Linked DNA regions of Homo sapiens. The protein of the gene in region 2 interacts with the protein of the main gene of each other region in a pairwise test. Each region holds a gene or a part of one and is shown on either strand. Other genes may lie near its edges.

Region 1 (7,214 bases), on a different chromosome or scaffold from region 2:
GTGAGCTGGTGGCCTTCGTGTCCCTGGGGCAAGTTCACCTGTGGGTGGGGCTGTGTGGGCTGAGTTCCTGACCCCTCTATAGCAGAGGTGCAGCTGCCCAGGCCCCCGAGGCCGGCACAGGATGCAGCAGGGGAGTCTCAGGCCTCAGCTCAGCCCCCATGGCATCTAGCCACACCCCCGTGTTTTTGAGGGATCCTGAGCCCACCCCTAGGGCTGAGGCTACCAAGCCCCACTGTGCCTCTTGCCTTGCCCATCCCCTGGATCCCCCTCACCCACCATTTCCCACGTGGGGGGCTCCCAGCAGGGCAGCACAAGAGGCAGGGGCAGGGCAGTGTGCCCTCTCCCACCCACCCAGCACAGTGGCTCAGGTGACCACTGATTGCATTAGTCACTCCGGCCCCACTGTGCCCCGGGAGGCAGGTGACCCAGCTCCCGGAAGAAGCTCCCAAATGACATTAAAGCCAGACTCCCCGCCCCCCAGCTCCCAGAGCCAGTTTTGTGGCCCGAGGGCCACTGCGACCCACCGCCCTTGTTGCTAGGCAACAGGAGGTGGGGGTGGAGCGGACCCTTCTGGCCAGTGTCCTGGACGCTCAGGGGCCAGTGAGACTCAGGGCCCATCCTACAAACCTGGATGAGGCCACCAGGGTTGGGGGCACCTTCTGACCAGTGGCTGAGGAGCCGGACTGTGTGGCATGGCCTTGGGACACACACACCGAGCCGCCCAGAACCAGGTTAAGCCTCAAGCGGTGACAACTCCTGGTTAGGCACGTAACACAAAATCCAACTTGCCAGTGGCAAACCCTGGCCTGGTGGCCGACAGCTGACCTGAGCCTGGAAGAACGGGATCTGTGTGCTGCTAGCACAAAAGTCAAGGGCAGGGCCTGGCCAGCCAGCCAGATGTGCCTCCTCCCCGCCCACCCCACCCTCTCTCTCCATCTCTGTCTCTTTCTCCTTCTCTCTCTCTTCCTGCTTTTGCTCCCTAAGACGTTTGAAGCCAAAATCCACCATCTAGAGACCCGGCCCGCCCAGAGGCCGCGAGCTGGGGGCCCCCACCTGGAGTACTTCGTGCGCCTCGAGGTGCGCCGAGGGGACCTGGCCGCCCTGCTCAGTGGTGTGCGCCAGGTGTCAGAGGACGTGCGCAGCCCCGCGGGGCCCAAGGGTGAGGCGGTTTTCTGTCCTTGAGGGCCACCAAATGACCTTGAGAGGCTGGGGTGCAGGGGCTCCTGCAGGGGGACCCTACAGTGACCACGTGGTGGTGGCCTGGTTCCCTCTCTGCGGGCTCCACTCCGCACCCCGTTTTGCTACACATCCGTGTCCGGGCCTGGGGCCACTCCAGGATCCCCCCGCAGCTCTCACAGCCCCGGCTGCCTCTGCCCCCCGGAAGTCTTGTAGGGGAGGCTGCTTCAAGGTGGGTGACACAGCCCCACGGCTCCGAGCTCACCAAGATCTCTTCCTCCATCACCCATAAAGTCCCCTGGTTCCCAAGAAAAGTGTCAGAGCTGGACAAGTGTCATCACCTGGTCACCAAGTTCGACCCTGACCTGGACTTGGACCACCCGGTGAGTGGTGCGCCCCTCACTCAGGCCTCCTGCCCCTGATCACATCCCCTACCCTTAGCCCAACCCTGGACAGGAGTCTGTCGGCTCCAGGAGCCTCCGTGGCCTGTGCCCCCACCCCAGCACAGCCTCCTGACCCGTGCATCCCCTCTGCCCTCAGGGCTTCTCGGACCAGGTGTACCGCCAGCGCAGGAAGCTGATTGCTGAGATCGCCTTCCAGTACAGGCAGTGAGGGGCCCCTGCGCTCGGGACCCAGACTCCGTCCTGCAGGCTGACGCTGGACCTGGGGGGTGGGAGGGAAGGACAAAGGGGAGGACCCATCTTGTCACCAGCATCAGTGCCTCCTGCCAGGCAGCTCTGCTCCAGGGCTTTCCATGTCCCCAAATCCCAGTGGGGAAACTGAGGCCCAGGGGGGCTAGAGCAACCTGCCGAGGCCACATAGCCGGCTCACGGCACAGTCAGCTGGGGTGCACCCTCCTGTCCATCCTCCAACCCAAAGGCCTCGCTGCACTAGGCGGGTGTGGACCTGTGCCCAGTGAAGCTCCCTCCCTCCCTCCTGCCCTTCTCACTCCCCGAGGGGACCTGCTGACCACTGGCCCCCTCCCCAGCGGCGACCCGATTCCCCGTGTGGAGTACACCGCCGAGGAGATTGCCACCTGGTGAGACCTCCGTGCAGCTAGGGGCTGGGGAGGAGCCCGGGGGATGCCTCCTGGAATCCTGGCGTGTGAGGGCCGCCTCCAGGGACCTTGGCACAACAGGAGAGACTAAGGCCGGGAAGAAGAGGGACTTGCAGGGCTCAGAATGTTGGGTTGGGAGGAAGAGGCTACCCATCCTGTCGGGCCATCCCCAGTGTGCTGAGGGACCGCCCCTCATGGCCCCCTATCCCCTGGGATTCCCTAAAGCCACCAGCAAAAGCCCCTCCCGGGGGCCTGGGTCTTCAGGGGTCCCCAAGAGGCCTGCGTTGGTAGGGGCTCAGGCAGGCAGAGGCACCCACAGTTCAGGAGGGGGGTTTCGGGCACTGGGGTGGGGCATTAGAGGGCCCTGAGCCTGGCTGCCCGCAGGAAGGAGGTCTACACCACGCTGAAGGGCCTCTACGCCACGCACGCCTGCGGGGAGCACCTGGAGGCCTTTGCTTTGCTGGAGCGCTTCAGCGGCTACCGGGAAGACAATATCCCCCAGCTGGAGGACGTCTCCCGCTTCCTGAAGGGTGTGCCCAGACGGGAGGGGCGCAGAGCCGGGGGGCCGGGGATGGTCAGCCAAGCGCCCCACCCCAGCGCGGCTCCAGCCCGTCCCGGCTCGGCAGTGACCCGCGTGGCCCCTTGCAGAGCGCACGGGCTTCCAGCTGCGGCCTGTGGCCGGCCTGCTGTCCGCCCGGGACTTCCTGGCCAGCCTGGCCTTCCGCGTGTTCCAGTGCACCCAGTATATCCGCCACGCGTCCTCGCCCATGCACTCCCCTGAGCCGTGAGTGCGCGCCCTGGCCGCCAGCCCGAGGGTGGGGGGTGCGACGGGCGGCCCCTCAGCCCCCTTCTCCCTCCTACGCGCAGGGACTGCTGCCACGAGCTGCTGGGGCACGTGCCCATGCTGGCCGACCGCACCTTCGCGCAGTTCTCGCAGGTACGCCGCGGCCTCGGAGGGAGCCGGGGTCACCCAGGGGCTGGCTTGGCGCCGGGGGCGGGCGGGGATCGATGTGCGGGTGGGTGAAGTGTGCTGCCTGCTCCCGGGCCCCGCCAAGGAGGCTCGGCGCCCCGAGGGTCGCGCGGCATAGGGCGGGGCTGGAGCGGAGCCTCCCACGGCCTGTGCTGCCACCTGCCGGCTACCTGGGAACGGCGCCCACGGGCTTAGGAATGTGGTCAAGGAGGGCTGCCTGGAGGAGGAGGCCCGGTGGAGGTGCGGATCCTGGGCGGCCAGGGAAGGTCTCTGCCGCCAGGGAAGTGTCCCAGAGACCCCTGGAGGGGCTGCTGACACCCCCGGTGCCCCCACCTCGAGCATGACCCAGGGCTGCCTCTCCCCATCCTTCATCCTCCCTGCTCCACAGGACATTGGCCTGGCGTCCCTGGGGGCCTCGGATGAGGAAATTGAGAAGCTGTCCACGGTGGGTTGACCCCTCCCTGCAGGGCCTGGGGTGTGGGTTTGGGGGTCTGAATCCAGGCCTCACCCTCTTGCCGTCCAGGCTGAGGCCTCTCCTTCCACCCACGAATTGTGACCCTCACCCTGGCCTGCCTGCATCCTGGCCTGGCCTCCCTGGGGGTGGTATCCTGGTCACGGGTGACCAGGGGCTGCCCGGTGGGCGGCAGCTGTCTCTGGGCTGATGCTGCCCGGCTTCCCCGCAGCTGTACTGGTTCACGGTGGAGTTCGGGCTGTGTAAGCAGAACGGGGAGGTGAAGGCCTATGGTGCCGGGCTGCTGTCCTCCTACGGGGAGCTCCTGGTGAGAGTCTCTCCTTGCTGCAGCCCCCAGCAGAGGGGCAGGGCTGGGGGACGGTGCAGGGAGGGGACAGGCTCCCAGTGGGAGGAAACTGAGGCCTGGACCTCCAGGACTCAGGCTCTGTTTGGGAGAAGGCTTGTCTCTGCCCAGTCCTCACCCCACATTATCCCAGGCCTCCGAAGGCCCGGCGGGGGAGATGGGGGTGACTCTACCCAAGGAACCCACCCAGCGTCAGGCCACGGTGCCCCAGTTCCCTCGGGGACCTGGGTGCAGTGGAGTCAGTGATGCCATTGGCCTCCTGCCAGCACTGCCTGTCTGAGGAGCCTGAGATTCGGGCCTTCGACCCTGAGGCTGCGGCCGTGCAGCCCTACCAAGACCAGACGTACCAGTCAGTCTACTTCGTGTCTGAGAGCTTCAGTGACGCCAAGGACAAGCTCAGGTGGGCTAGGCTGCTAGGGCAAGCCCCCCATGGTGCCCCCAAACTGGGCCAGCCAGGCCTTCCTTCTGGCCTTGAGCAGGGCTGGACCTGTGAGCCCAGGTCACAGATGAGAAAACCGACCCCTGGTTGCAGCAGCCCCCACACAGCAGGGACACCATCCGTGAGAAGGACCCCAGCGTCTGGGGAGGGGCAGACCTACAGGACTGGGGGCTGCTGGGTGGCCGGGTCAAGGCCAGTCTTGGAGGTGCTGACAGAGCCTGAGCTTTGTGAGGACGTCCTGTGGAACCTGTCCCGGCCCCCTGCCCTGGGATGGGGAGAAGTCAGGGGGATAGACAGAGTCAAGGTGGGGGACAGGGCGGGAGTGGGGTCCCCAGGGCTGGGGGCCTTTGGTGCAGTGACCAGAGTGTCAGGAGAGGGGAGCAAAGCCCTCTAGCCTCATCCTCATAAAAGGTCTCATCATTTTCCCTCCAGCCTCTTATGCACTGGGGAAACTGAGGCCAGGGGCTATGTGTCCAGCGGACAGGGGTGCTGAATTCCACCCACAGGCTTAGGGATATGGTCAAGGAAAGCTTCCTGGAGGAGGCCCAGTGGAGGTTCAGGGAGGGATGGGGTGCCCGGCAGTCTCTAGTGGAAAAGGCGCCTAGCCTATCTCCCCCATGAACCCCCTCACCCAGCCCTGGAAGAGGCCTCAGTGTCCCGCCTGTGACCAGTTGGCTCAGAAAAGCCCTGGGAGCTCTGAGCCACTGTGAAGGTGGAAACGCGGCCCCTGGCCTCCCCTCTCCTGGAGGCTGCAGACTCTGCCCGCCAGTTGACGAGGGCTCTGCCGCTCTCCTCCCCAGGAGCTATGCCTCACGCATCCAGCGCCCCTTCTCCGTGAAGTTCGACCCGTACACGCTGGCCATCGACGTGCTGGACAGCCCCCAGGCCGTGCGGCGCTCCCTGGAGGGTGTCCAGGATGAGCTGGACACCCTTGCCCATGCGCTGAGTGCCATTGGCTAGGTGCACGGCGTCCCTGAGGGCCCTTCCCAACCTCCCCTGGTCCTGCACTGTCCCGGAGCTCAGGCCCTGGTGAGGGGCTGGGTCCCGGGTGCCCCCCATGCCCTCCCTGCTGCCAGGCTCCCACTGCCCCTGCACCTGCTTCTCAGCGCAACAGCTGTGTGTGCCCGTGGTGAGGTTGTGCTGCCTGTGGTGAGGTCCTGTCCTGGCTCCCAGGGTCCTGGGGGCTGCTGCACTGCCCTCCGCCCTTCCCTGACACTGTCTGCTGCCCCAATCACCGTCACAATAAAAGAAACTGTGGTCTCTACACCTGCCTGGCCCCACATCTGTGCCACAGAGACAGACCCTGGGATCCTCAGACTCCCACACCCCCACCCCAGCCTCACTCAGAGGTTTCGCCCTGGCCTCCTTCCTCCTCTGGGAGATGGCTGGCCGCCCTGGCCAGGCAGCTGGCCCCTCCGGGCCTGGTTTCCCCGCTCACCCTGAGGCCCCGCCCAGCTCTGAGCCCCAAGCAGCTCCAGAGGCTCGGGCACCCTGGCCGAGCTGCCCCATCTCCGTGGGGTGCCCTCCCAAGGTGGGGAGCCACGTGACAGTGGGAGGGCCTCTCTCAGGCCTGGCAGGGAGCAGGGGTCACAAACTGTGCTGGCTGGGGGTGGTCTCAGAGGTGGGCCTGCAGGCCTAACCCTCCCTGCTGACAGGGCTCCCAGCCCTTGAGAGAAACAGGGATGGAGGAACAGCTGCCCTGATGCCCTCACCCACCCGGAGCAGGCCCTGCGAACCAAGGGGAACCTCAGTGTGGCCCCCAGCATGTGTGCTGATGGGGAGGGTCTGGCTGAGCTGGTGCCCAGGCAGATGGTCTGGGCCTGTCTCCCCAGCGAGGCAGGATGGGGGCTGGATTTCAGACTCTGTAAGATGCCCCTGGCTTACTCGAGGGGCCTGGACATTGCCCTCCAGAGAGAGCACCCAACACCCTCCAGGCTTGACCGGCCAGGGTGTCCCCTTCCTACCTTGGAGAGAGCAGCCCCAGGGCATCCTGCAGGGGGTGCTGGGACACCAGCTGGCCTTCAAGGTCTCTGCCTCCCTCCAGCCACCCCACTACACGCTGCTGGGATCCTGGATCTCAGCTCCCCGGCCGACAACACTGGCAAACTCCTACTCATCCACGAAGGCCCTCCTGGGCATGGTGGTCCTTCCCAGCCTGGCAGTCTGTTCCTCACACACCTTGTTAGTGCCCAGCCCCTGAGGTTGCAGCTGGGGGTGTCTCTGAAGGGCTGTGAGCCCCCAGGAAGCCCTGGGGAAGTGCCTGCCTTGCCTCCCCCCGGCCCTGCCAGCGCCTGGCTCTGCCCTCCTACCTGGGCTCCCCCCATCCAGCCTCCCTCCCTACACACTCCTCTCAAGGAGGCACCCATGTCCTCTCCAGCTGCCGGGCCTCAGAGCACTGTGGCGTCCTGGGGCAGCCACCGCATGTCCTGCTGTGGCATGGCTCAGGGTGGAAAGGGCGGAAGGGAGGGGTCCTGCAGATAGCTGGTGCCCACTACCAAACCCGCTCGGGGCAGGAGAGCCAAAGGCTGGGTGTGTGCAGAGCGGCCCCGAGAGGTTCCGAGGCTGAGGCCAGGGTGGGACATAGGGATGCGAGGGGCCGGGGCACAGGATACTCCAACCTGCCTGCCCCCATGGTCTCATCCTCCTGCTTCTGGGACCTCCTGATCCTGCCCCTGGTGCTAAGAGGCAGGTAGGGGCTGCAGGCAGCAGGGCTCGGAGCCCATGCCCCCTCACCATGGGTCAGGCTGGACCTCCAGG
Region 2 (9,039 bases):
CCCAGAATGCTGGGATCTGAATACTTTTAAGGAAAAGCCTATCTTTTTTAGTTCTACAGGGGCTCATCTCTCCACACTGTGTTATACTCAGACACTTCCCAAATTAGCATTCATTGCCTGGCTCCCAAAGGCCATTGGAGTTTGCAAATCACAGCTAAAAATGTTCTCTAAGGTTCTGAGTGCTGATGTGATAAAAATTACTGAAACCTTTTCCAGCCAGCAAAAGGGGGAATGAGAATGAAAAAAAATCCCTTCTGCCATGTGAGCGTGGGGACCTCATAGAGCCTAAGCATTCCAAGCCTGATGAGAGGGGAGCTTGGCTTAAAGCATGTCACCGCCACTGGGATGTATTAGTGTGGATAGTGGCAGGCACTCCAGCCTGTCTCCAGCCCCTATTCCATCCTCTGAGCCACTCCTCTTTCCTGCCAACCATTTAACAATGATTTCCTCTGACCTGAACTGTCATCTCGGGTTTTCTGCTCTAATTTTAATCCAGGGCAAATGGTGTCTTTCTCTGAACGGCCGAGTGAGGAGGACATATTTGTGGGGCCCATCTGGGGCCCCCTCTGGGGGAACTTCAGGATTATTTCAGGGTCAAGGGTTCCCTACCAGGATAAGTTCATCGTTGGCCAGCTCACGGGTCCAGTAGGTTTTGGGGCCGTCCCCTTCAAGAAGAGTTTGCGTGCAGTGGATCTTGTTCTCATTCTCCCAAGTGGCTAAACTCTGCAGGCGGGAAAACCATTAGTGACATTAATTAGAGTCTCAGCAGCGGGAGCAGGGACAACAATGAGCATTGAAAAATAATTGCTCTGCAGAGAATCAACACATGGTCCCTGTCAGCAGGCCACAGATTCTTCTCCGCTGAGCCTTATAAAGTCCAAATTCAGAGTGCTGGTCACAGATTTTATGGGGTATAAATACACCTTGTATAACACACACACACACTCACAAGCACACACAAACAATCTCTTACTGAAGCAGCGAGGCCTTAGGCATGCTTTACATCTCTAGGAATAAAATTTAGAGCATGAAATGATTCATTTATATAAAAATTAGCTAACCCTTCAAACAATTTGGATTTTATTTATTTTTATTCATTTTTTTTTTGAGATGGAGTCTCGCTCTGTTGCCCAGGCTGGAGTGCAGTGGCACAATCTTGGCTCCTTACAACCTCCACCTCCCAGGTTCAAGCAATTCTCCTGTCTCAGCCTCCTGAGTAGCTGGGATGACAGGTGCCTGCCACCACGCCCAGCTAATTTTTTTGGTATATTTAGTACAGATGGGGTTTCACCAGGCTGGTCTCGAACTCCTGACCTCAGGTGAACATAATTTGGATTTTAAAAGCAAGAACCTTCACATCAGAACCACAAGATTTGACAACAGTTAAGACACCAAGTTTGTAACCACATCTGTCATCAGCCTATCAGGAGCACGATTCCCTGCATGGATTTTGGGATAGGAACGTCCTTTCTGTTCACTCCTCATCAGATTTAGTGCACCCCTGCACTGATAAACCTCGGTGTCTTTGGCTCTGAGGGTTAAAATGCTGCCACTTTCCCGGTTACATCCCTTTAGAAAAAATTTAAAAAGCAAATCAATCTGAAGGCTCTTCATGCTTTTGGAGGTGGGAGGCAAAAGGAGGGATTTCCTGAAGTTTTTCCCCAGTGTCTGCACAAAGCTAAGTGTGGTACAGCTGGGCTGGGGGGTGGGCCAGAGCTGAATGTGCACATAATCAGTTTTTAACTAACACATGGGACACATTCATTAGGCAAGGTGTGGGGGGATGGGGGGTGCATAAAGCCCCACTCTCCCGGCTGTTGTGTGAACCTTTAATTTTTTTTTTTTAAATCAGAATTACCCTTCCTGGCAGTAGCCAACATTGGATGTCCCCAGACTGAGCCCTGCCTATTGCCAAGCCTCCTCTCTTAGACTCCCAGCCCTTCACTCTATGCTGTCCTGCTCTTTGTTTCTGCAGTGCAGTTTAGGCTTCAGATCCCACCCCCTCCAAGCGTGGAGATCATTTCCAGGCTATGACAATTCTGGAGCCAAAGATTGCCTCCTAGATCAGCCTGCTTCTGGGGGGCTTTGTTTCTTTGTCCTTCCAAGCCCGGTGCTCAGAGAGTCCCATTCCGAGATCAGACCAGGCACTGCTCAGGAAAGGTGAAAGAAACAATTTCCCACTCTCTGGAATGTTACGACTTTTTTCTTTAAAAAAAAAAAATTGGAGAAGGGGAGGGAGACATTCTGTCACTTTTTAAATAAGTGGTAGCACCGGTGATTATTTTTCCATCTGGTTAACCAAATGCAATTTTTGCCCATGCAAAAAACGAATGTACAACCCCTTGCTTCAATCCACCGGTTCATCCCTGGGCCGATGCATGGAGAAATAAAAAAAAACTCTTGCCCTTGAGGACTAAGAGAGGGCAACTAGTCCATTTTCCCAGCCAGAACCTGCCTTGCTTTTGGAAAGACTCCGCCGTTCCTTTAAGGAACCAGGCCGAAGGCGGGAAGGGAGAGGTGACGGGGCCATCGGGACTGCTAAAACTGTATCCAGAGCGTACCCAGGCGGCCCAGGGACCCGGGCGGGCGCGGGGGATACGGCGGGAAAGGAATGCAAGAGCTGCGGCTTCACCTGCGACAGAGAACCTGGCGGCTCCTGCAACCTCCTCCTCCTCCTGCGCCGCCTGCGCTTGGCGCTGCAAACCGCTGCAAAAGCCACTGCTGGGAACGCGGCGCAACCCAGAGCCCGCTCTTTAAGCGCGGCTGTTAGCACCCCGGGAGGCAGCGTAGGGATGGGGTTGAGATGGAATGAAGGTAATACTTTGTCTTGAGCCAGGGGCAACTAGGATGCACAAACCCCCTCTGCAAACAGCCAGTGTACACACCCTGCAAGGAAGGCGCGCCACAGGCTGCAAAGGGAGACACAGGTTCCTCCAGCAGCAGTGGGCCATGGGCACCGAGCGGGGACACGGGGACGCTGTAGTGGCTCTGGGGCCTCACCCTGCACTTGCGTCCGTCCACGGTCTCCTCCTCAAAGCCTTCTCCGACCTTGAAGTTGATCTCAGTGGTGCGCACCGTGGTGGATGTCTTGATGTAGAACTGATCCCCGTCCTGGCGGATCTCCACGTGCGGCTTGGACGCAGCCGCTACGGCCACTTTCCTCAGCATGGCGTTCACACCTGCGCAGGGTGCACCACAGGCTTGGGTCACGGGGCCTCGCCGCCAGTCTCGGGACCGGTCGGGCACTGGTCATACCCTAACTTTAGAAAGGGGCCTTAAAATTGATCCACTCGTTTCCCTGCCCTCGCCCTTGTTTTCGAGATGAGAGACTGAGGCACAGAGAGGGTAAGTGACTTTCCTCGAGTTGCACAGTGAATTCGTGGCAGAGCCTGGTCCCAAATTTGAGTCTCCAAATTTAAGTCCCTGATCCTCCTTGCTCTCCAGTAATCTCTCCTCGCTATGATCTAGCACGAGATAAAGTCCGCACCATCGAGGAGGGCGCCAAACATTCAGCAAACGTTCGCTGAACGCGTGGGTTCCGGGATCTCTACCAGCTTCTCCGAGACCCGGTGCGCCTGGGAGACAAGGCGATCTATTGCCCCGGGGACTCCCTCCTGCCTGGGCTCCCCAACTTCCACCCCCTCCAGGACCGGGGCACTTCCGGGACCAGGGCACCTCCGGGCCGCATCTCCCCGTCGGGGCGCGCCCTCTGCACCAGCTTACCCAGTGCCTTGAGCAGCTCGTCGAAATTCTCGCTGCTGCGCATCTTCCAGGTGCCGGCGAAGTTGGGCATGGTGGCGGTGGCGGCGGCGGCAGGTACGGACAGCGGCGGCGCAGCGGGCACACTCTGAGCTCGCAAGGCGGAGACTGGCGCTTTGCGCCCAGCGCTGCGCGCCTTGAGTCACTAGGAGAGCGCCCCCAACCCCGCCGGGCTTCTGGCCCCGCCCCGCCGGCCCTGCCCCCGCTCCCCCGCAGCCCCTACTCGGTATGCGCTCAACTCCCAGCCCAGTTGTGCCTCAGCCTCCAGAGGTGCGGGCACCCGCTCTCCAACTGGGGAGCCTCCACCTCCCTCAGGACACCCACATCCCGCTTTAAAATGGGTGGTGGGAGAGGGTTAGCTGAAACAAGATGGGCTTGGAGGGGATAACTGTTGAAGCTGGGCGGTGTGGACTTGGGTTATGATTCTACTTTTCTCTCTACTTTTGAATATGTTTGAAAATATCCATAACATAAACTTAAAGTGGATAGCGAGCGGGGCCATCAGGGGATGGGACCCACTCTTTTTTCACCTCCGGTCGTACCTACTGGGTGTGCCCAGATGGTGTCCCTTCCCTCCCAGTCCGGGATCCTATTCTGAAACCCTCTCCCCGCATCCCCACGCCCCCCACAGGACCCATGGGGAGTGAGTGGCAGGAAACCGCAACCCCCATCAACACCAGCTTGGGCACTGAGGCGCGAATCCACGAGCTGCGGGTCCTCCGCGTTCCGAGTGCAGGAGGGGGCCAGACCTTTGTCAGGGCTCAGGACAAACTGTGGGTCGAGAGGCATGGACTGAATCAGCTCCAGAATCTGGGCTAGGTGCGGCCTGTTTTGCAAAAGCGTGAGGCTTTGCACTCTTCGGGCAGGCTGTGAGGGCCAAGGGGAGGAAGTCTTCTCCCTTTGCTCCCAAATAACCTAAACATCACGACCTAAAGTCCCCTCGGTGTTTCCACTAAGGGAGTACAAACACTTCACTATTACCCTTGTAGCTCTTCTCTGTACATTTTCCTTCCAGCTTTTTCCCACTATTTTACCATCTGCACACCTCAGCCAAACTGTACAATTCAGGATTCTAGAACGTGCCATGCATTTTATTATCTCTAAGTTTTTGCCCATGCCATGGCTTCTTCCTTGAATGCCCCTTTCCTCATCGGGTTAATCAAATCTTGCCCATTCACGAAAGCCCATCTTTATGCTCTCTCTTTTGTGAAATTCAGTTTCCTAATAAACTGTGATTATTTTTCTCTGAATTGACAGGATTCTTGTCCGGTCCTGCTCTTGTTCAAGTCTTCGCTCTGCTATAAACTGAACTCCTGGAGGGCAGTGATCGTTTATCCACTTGTCCTCCCTTCCTAAGGCTTAGCCAGGTGGGGCTCGATAACTGTGCATTGATTTGAGGAGGATGTGAGTGGTGGCCTGGGGTGAAGATTCCCCCAGGACCTTGGGGAATCTGTGCTGAGTGCCTACTGAACAGGGCCCTGGAAACTTCTGGAGGTGGCTGGGGCTGGGTTGCTGCCAGGAGGCTCCGAGGATCTGTCTAAGAAAGCAGCTGAGGACAGGAGAGGGGAGTGGGGCCATCACCAGCTGGAAAGGGGCATGGGCAGGGCCGGCATTCTGGACGTGCCGTCTGTGCAGTCACACAGGGCCATGCACTTAGAAGGGCCTGATAGTTAGATTGGAAAATGGAAAAGCAGGAATGCTCTGCTATTGCCAGCTTGAACGTCAGAATACTTTTTGTTTGTTTGTTTGTTTTGAGACAGAGTCTCGCTCTGTTGCCCGAGCTGGAGTGCAGTGGCGCAATCTTGGCTCACTGCAACCTCTGCCTCCTGGGTTTAAATGATTCTCCTGGCTCAGCCTCCCAAGTAGCTGGGACTACAGGTGTGTGCTACTATGCCCAGCTAATTTTTTGTATTTTTAGTAGAGACAGGGTTTCACTGTGTTAGCCAGGATAGTCTCGATCTCCTGACCTCGTGATCCGCCCTCCTCGGCCTCCCAAAGTGCTGGGATTACAGGCATGAGCCACCGTGCCTGGCCCCATAATACTTTTTGAACAAGGAGTCCTGAATTTTTATTTTGCACTGGGATCTGCAAATTAAGTAGCAGGTCCTGGATGTGGGAGGCAAGGGATGGAGCTGCCATAGAATCAAACCCACTTCACAGAGGGTTGAGTGCCTCTCCAGTGAAGGGGCAAAACAGGAGTGCCATCCAGCTAATGCAGGCCTCTGCCCCCATCCAACACTCTTCCCTAAGAAGGCTTCAGCCATCTAAAGGGCAGGGCTGGGGAGGGACTGGGGCAGGAGGCTGGAGGAGGGCAGCAATGTTGGAGCAGCATCCTAGTTTACAGCCCAGAGAGACCTTGTGAGGATAGTCAGAGGGCCGTGGATGAGGCACAAAGGTGACAGAGAGCTCTTGCAGCAAAGGCATTGGATGGACAAAGAGGGAAGAGGGAAAGAAGAAGGTGAGGGAGGGAGTCAGAGAGAGAATGGGGCAAGAGGGGCCAGATGAAGGTGTCCACTCCAAAAGTTGGCCATACTGGGACAGGACAGTGGTGTCGTTCTGCAGGCACAAAACAAGGGCGGGAGCAGGGTCCAGGAGTGAGGAGGGCACAGCCAGTTCAGCCATAGAGTGGAAGATGATCCCAGAGTCCTTGTGAGCCCACTCTCCTTGTTTTTAAGACAGGGTCTGGCTCTGTCGCCAGTGCTGGAGTGCCCTGGTGCCATCTTGGGTCACTGTAACCTTGCCTCCCGGGCTCAAGCAATCCTCCTGCCTCAGCCTCCCAAGTAGCTGGGATTACAGGCATGCACCACCGTGCCTGGCTAATTTTTGTATTTTTAGTAGAGACAGGGGTTTGCCATGTTGCCCAGGATGGTCTCGAACTCCTGAGCTCAACCAGTTTGTCCACCTCAGCCTCCCAAAGTGCTAGGATTACAGGCATGAGCACCCAGCCTGCTGTCCTTGTTAATGGAAGTTTAGAGGTGACCAGAGCAGACAGGAGGGGCCAGGACTTCTCAGAAGACCCAAATCTCATCAGGTGGCACATGGAAATGGGAGGGCAGGCTGCTATCACCTTCCTGGCTACTGGGGAAACCCCAGAGTCAAGAGGGCCACAAAAACACCACCACCATGGCTGGGCACGGTGGCTCACACCTGTAATCCCAGCACTTAGGGAGGCTGAGGCAGGCGAATCACCTGAGGTCAGGAGTTCGAGATCAGCCTGGCCAACATGGTGAAAACCCATCTCTACTAAAAATACAAAATTAGTCGAACATGGTGGTGCGCCCCTGTAGTCCCAGCTACTCAGGAAGCTGAGTGAGGAGGATCACTTGAACCCAGGAGTCCCAGGTTGTAGTGAGCAGAGATCGCACCACTGCACTCCAGCCTGGGCAACAGAGTGAGATTCCGTCTCAAAAAGAAACAAACAAACCAACAAATAAACAAACAAAGAAAGCCACCACCATCGTGGTGTTTCTGTGGATCCAGAGCAGGCCCCCTGCTGGGCAGAGACCCGGCTCTTGGCCCGGGTCTTCAAACAGATGGGCAGAACCACCTGAAATGCTCTGACCTCCCTGTCTTCTCTCCTTCTCTTCTTTTACCCTTCCATTCGCTAACCTTTGCTGACCATCTCTGTGAGCCAGGAACTGGGTGCACCTCTGAGGATAGTGACCACTCAAGATCCAGGTCCTGTCTTGAAGGTTCACTGTTTACACAGGAGGAAATAACCTAGAAACTCTGTGATCACCACACGGGCTAATAGTGCCTGAGGGGCAGGTACTGAGCCCAGCCTGGGTTGAACCTTAGGAGTGGATCCAGAGGGGCTGTGAGAGTGAGGGAGTACAGTCAGAAGAACAACACGTGCAGGGACAGGGTTATGTGTTTGGGAACCACATATCTTTTGGCCTGGCTGGAGTGCATACCTTGAAGGGAGCAAGGTAGGAGGTAAGACAAGAGATGAGCTGAAGGCACTCTCCTAAGGACAAAGGGTCATGAATGCAGCGTTCCCAGGTGGCCACATAGAAGGATTTAAGCAGAGATGAGCCATGGTCCTACTGCATATTTGGAAAGTTGCCACCACCACAGCGTGGAGAATGAATGAGAGGAGACAAGTATATTACCAGGGATGCAGGGAGGAGGATTTTGCCCTGAACTAGGCAACCAGCGGTGATGTCGGCAGTGGGTTAGACCACAGTGGTTCCCTAAGGCTAGTCTGTGATTTGAGTCAGGCATTACAGCAGCCTGGGGAGCTTTCTAGAAATTCAGATTCCTTGGCCCCAGCCCAGGAGATTTGGATCCTGTAAGTCGTGGATAGGGCCCAGGAAACTGTGTTCGGCAAGTTTTCCAAGTGATTCTCCTTGCACAGCCAGATTGACTTTACAATATGTCATGACTGGTAGGGGTGAGGGAAGTGGGAGCAAGAGGCCAGAATGACTCCTAGATTCCTGGGTGGTGTGCTTGGTGGTCTCATTTGCTGCTATAGGTAAGACATGGATGGCAGATGAGTTTTATCTGGGAAGCGCTGGGTTTGAGTTGTCTGAGTATCCAGGATCCAGTGGGAAGTGTGGTTTTGGAGTTCGAGAGAGAGGTCTTAGCTGAAGACAGGGATGGGGGTCACCTGTTTCCAGCAAGCAGTTGAAGACATGAGTGTGGATGAGATGCGCAGAGACAGGACACAGAAAGAGAAGAGCAAAAGGCAAAGGGTAGAGCTTGGAGAATCTCAGCGTTTAGGGGTCAGATGGAGCAGGTGAGTGCTGAAGGAAGCAGGAGGGGAGAAGGAAGAAAACCAGAGGGTGATGTCCTCCCAGTCAAGGAGCCCAGCATTTTTTAAAAGGAGGGATTGGCTGGGTGCAGTGGCTCATGCATGTAATCCCAGCAGTTTGGAAGGCCGAGGTGGGTCGATCACCTGAGTTCAGGAGTTCAAGACCAGCCTGGCCAACATGGTGCAACCCCATCTCTACTAAAAATACAAAAATAGCCAGGTGTGGTGGCAGGCACCTGTAATCCCAGCTACTTGGGAGGCTGAGGGAGGAGAATCACTTAAGCCTAGTGGGTGGAGGTTGCAGTGAGCCAAGATTGCACAACTGCACTCCAGCCTGGATGACAGAATGAGACTCCATCTAAAAAAAAAAAAAGGAGGGATGGACCAACAGTAACAACTGCTCCAAAGAGGTTCATGGAGGCAAGGGCCACCACGTGTCCTCTGGATGAGCAGCAGGACGGTCTTCGTGACTGCAGTCAGAGCAGTTTTAGGAGGTGGTGGGGTCTGAAGGCAGGATCAACAGGTTG

Evidence for each region. Proteins that work in one complex are often made in the same cells at the same time.
Region 1: the proteins of CRABP1 (region 2) and TH interact in binary tests that used the Homo sapiens proteins (3 or more experiments, as listed by UniProt).

The regions. Positions count from the first base shown.
Region 1 is NC_000011.10:2,162,436-2,169,649, reverse strand, and holds the end of TH (tyrosine 3-monooxygenase), read left to right. Parts: intron 1-984; coding exon 985-1,159; intron 1,160-1,470; coding exon 1,471-1,559; intron 1,560-1,716; coding exon 1,717-1,784; intron 1,785-2,164; coding exon 2,165-2,215; intron 2,216-2,617; coding exon 2,618-2,763; intron 2,764-2,881; coding exon 2,882-3,017; intron 3,018-3,100; coding exon 3,101-3,170; intron 3,171-3,591; coding exon 3,592-3,648; intron 3,649-3,886; coding exon 3,887-3,982; intron 3,983-4,284; coding exon 4,285-4,418; intron 4,419-5,257; coding exon 5,258-5,417; 3' UTR 5,418-5,721; downstream 5,722-7,214. UniProt on the Homo sapiens protein: Catalyzes the conversion of L-tyrosine to L-dihydroxyphenylalanine (L-Dopa), the rate-limiting step in the biosynthesis of catecholamines, dopamine, noradrenaline, and adrenaline. Uses tetrahydrobiopterin and molecular oxygen to convert tyrosine to L-Dopa.
Region 2 is NC_000015.10:78,335,183-78,344,221, reverse strand, and holds the start of CRABP1 (cellular retinoic acid-binding protein 1), read right to left. Parts: upstream 3,870-9,039; 5' UTR 3,794-3,869; coding exon 3,724-3,793; intron 3,180-3,723; coding exon 3,001-3,179; intron 724-3,000; coding exon 610-723; intron 1-609. UniProt on the Homo sapiens protein: Cytosolic CRABPs may regulate the access of retinoic acid to the nuclear retinoic acid receptors.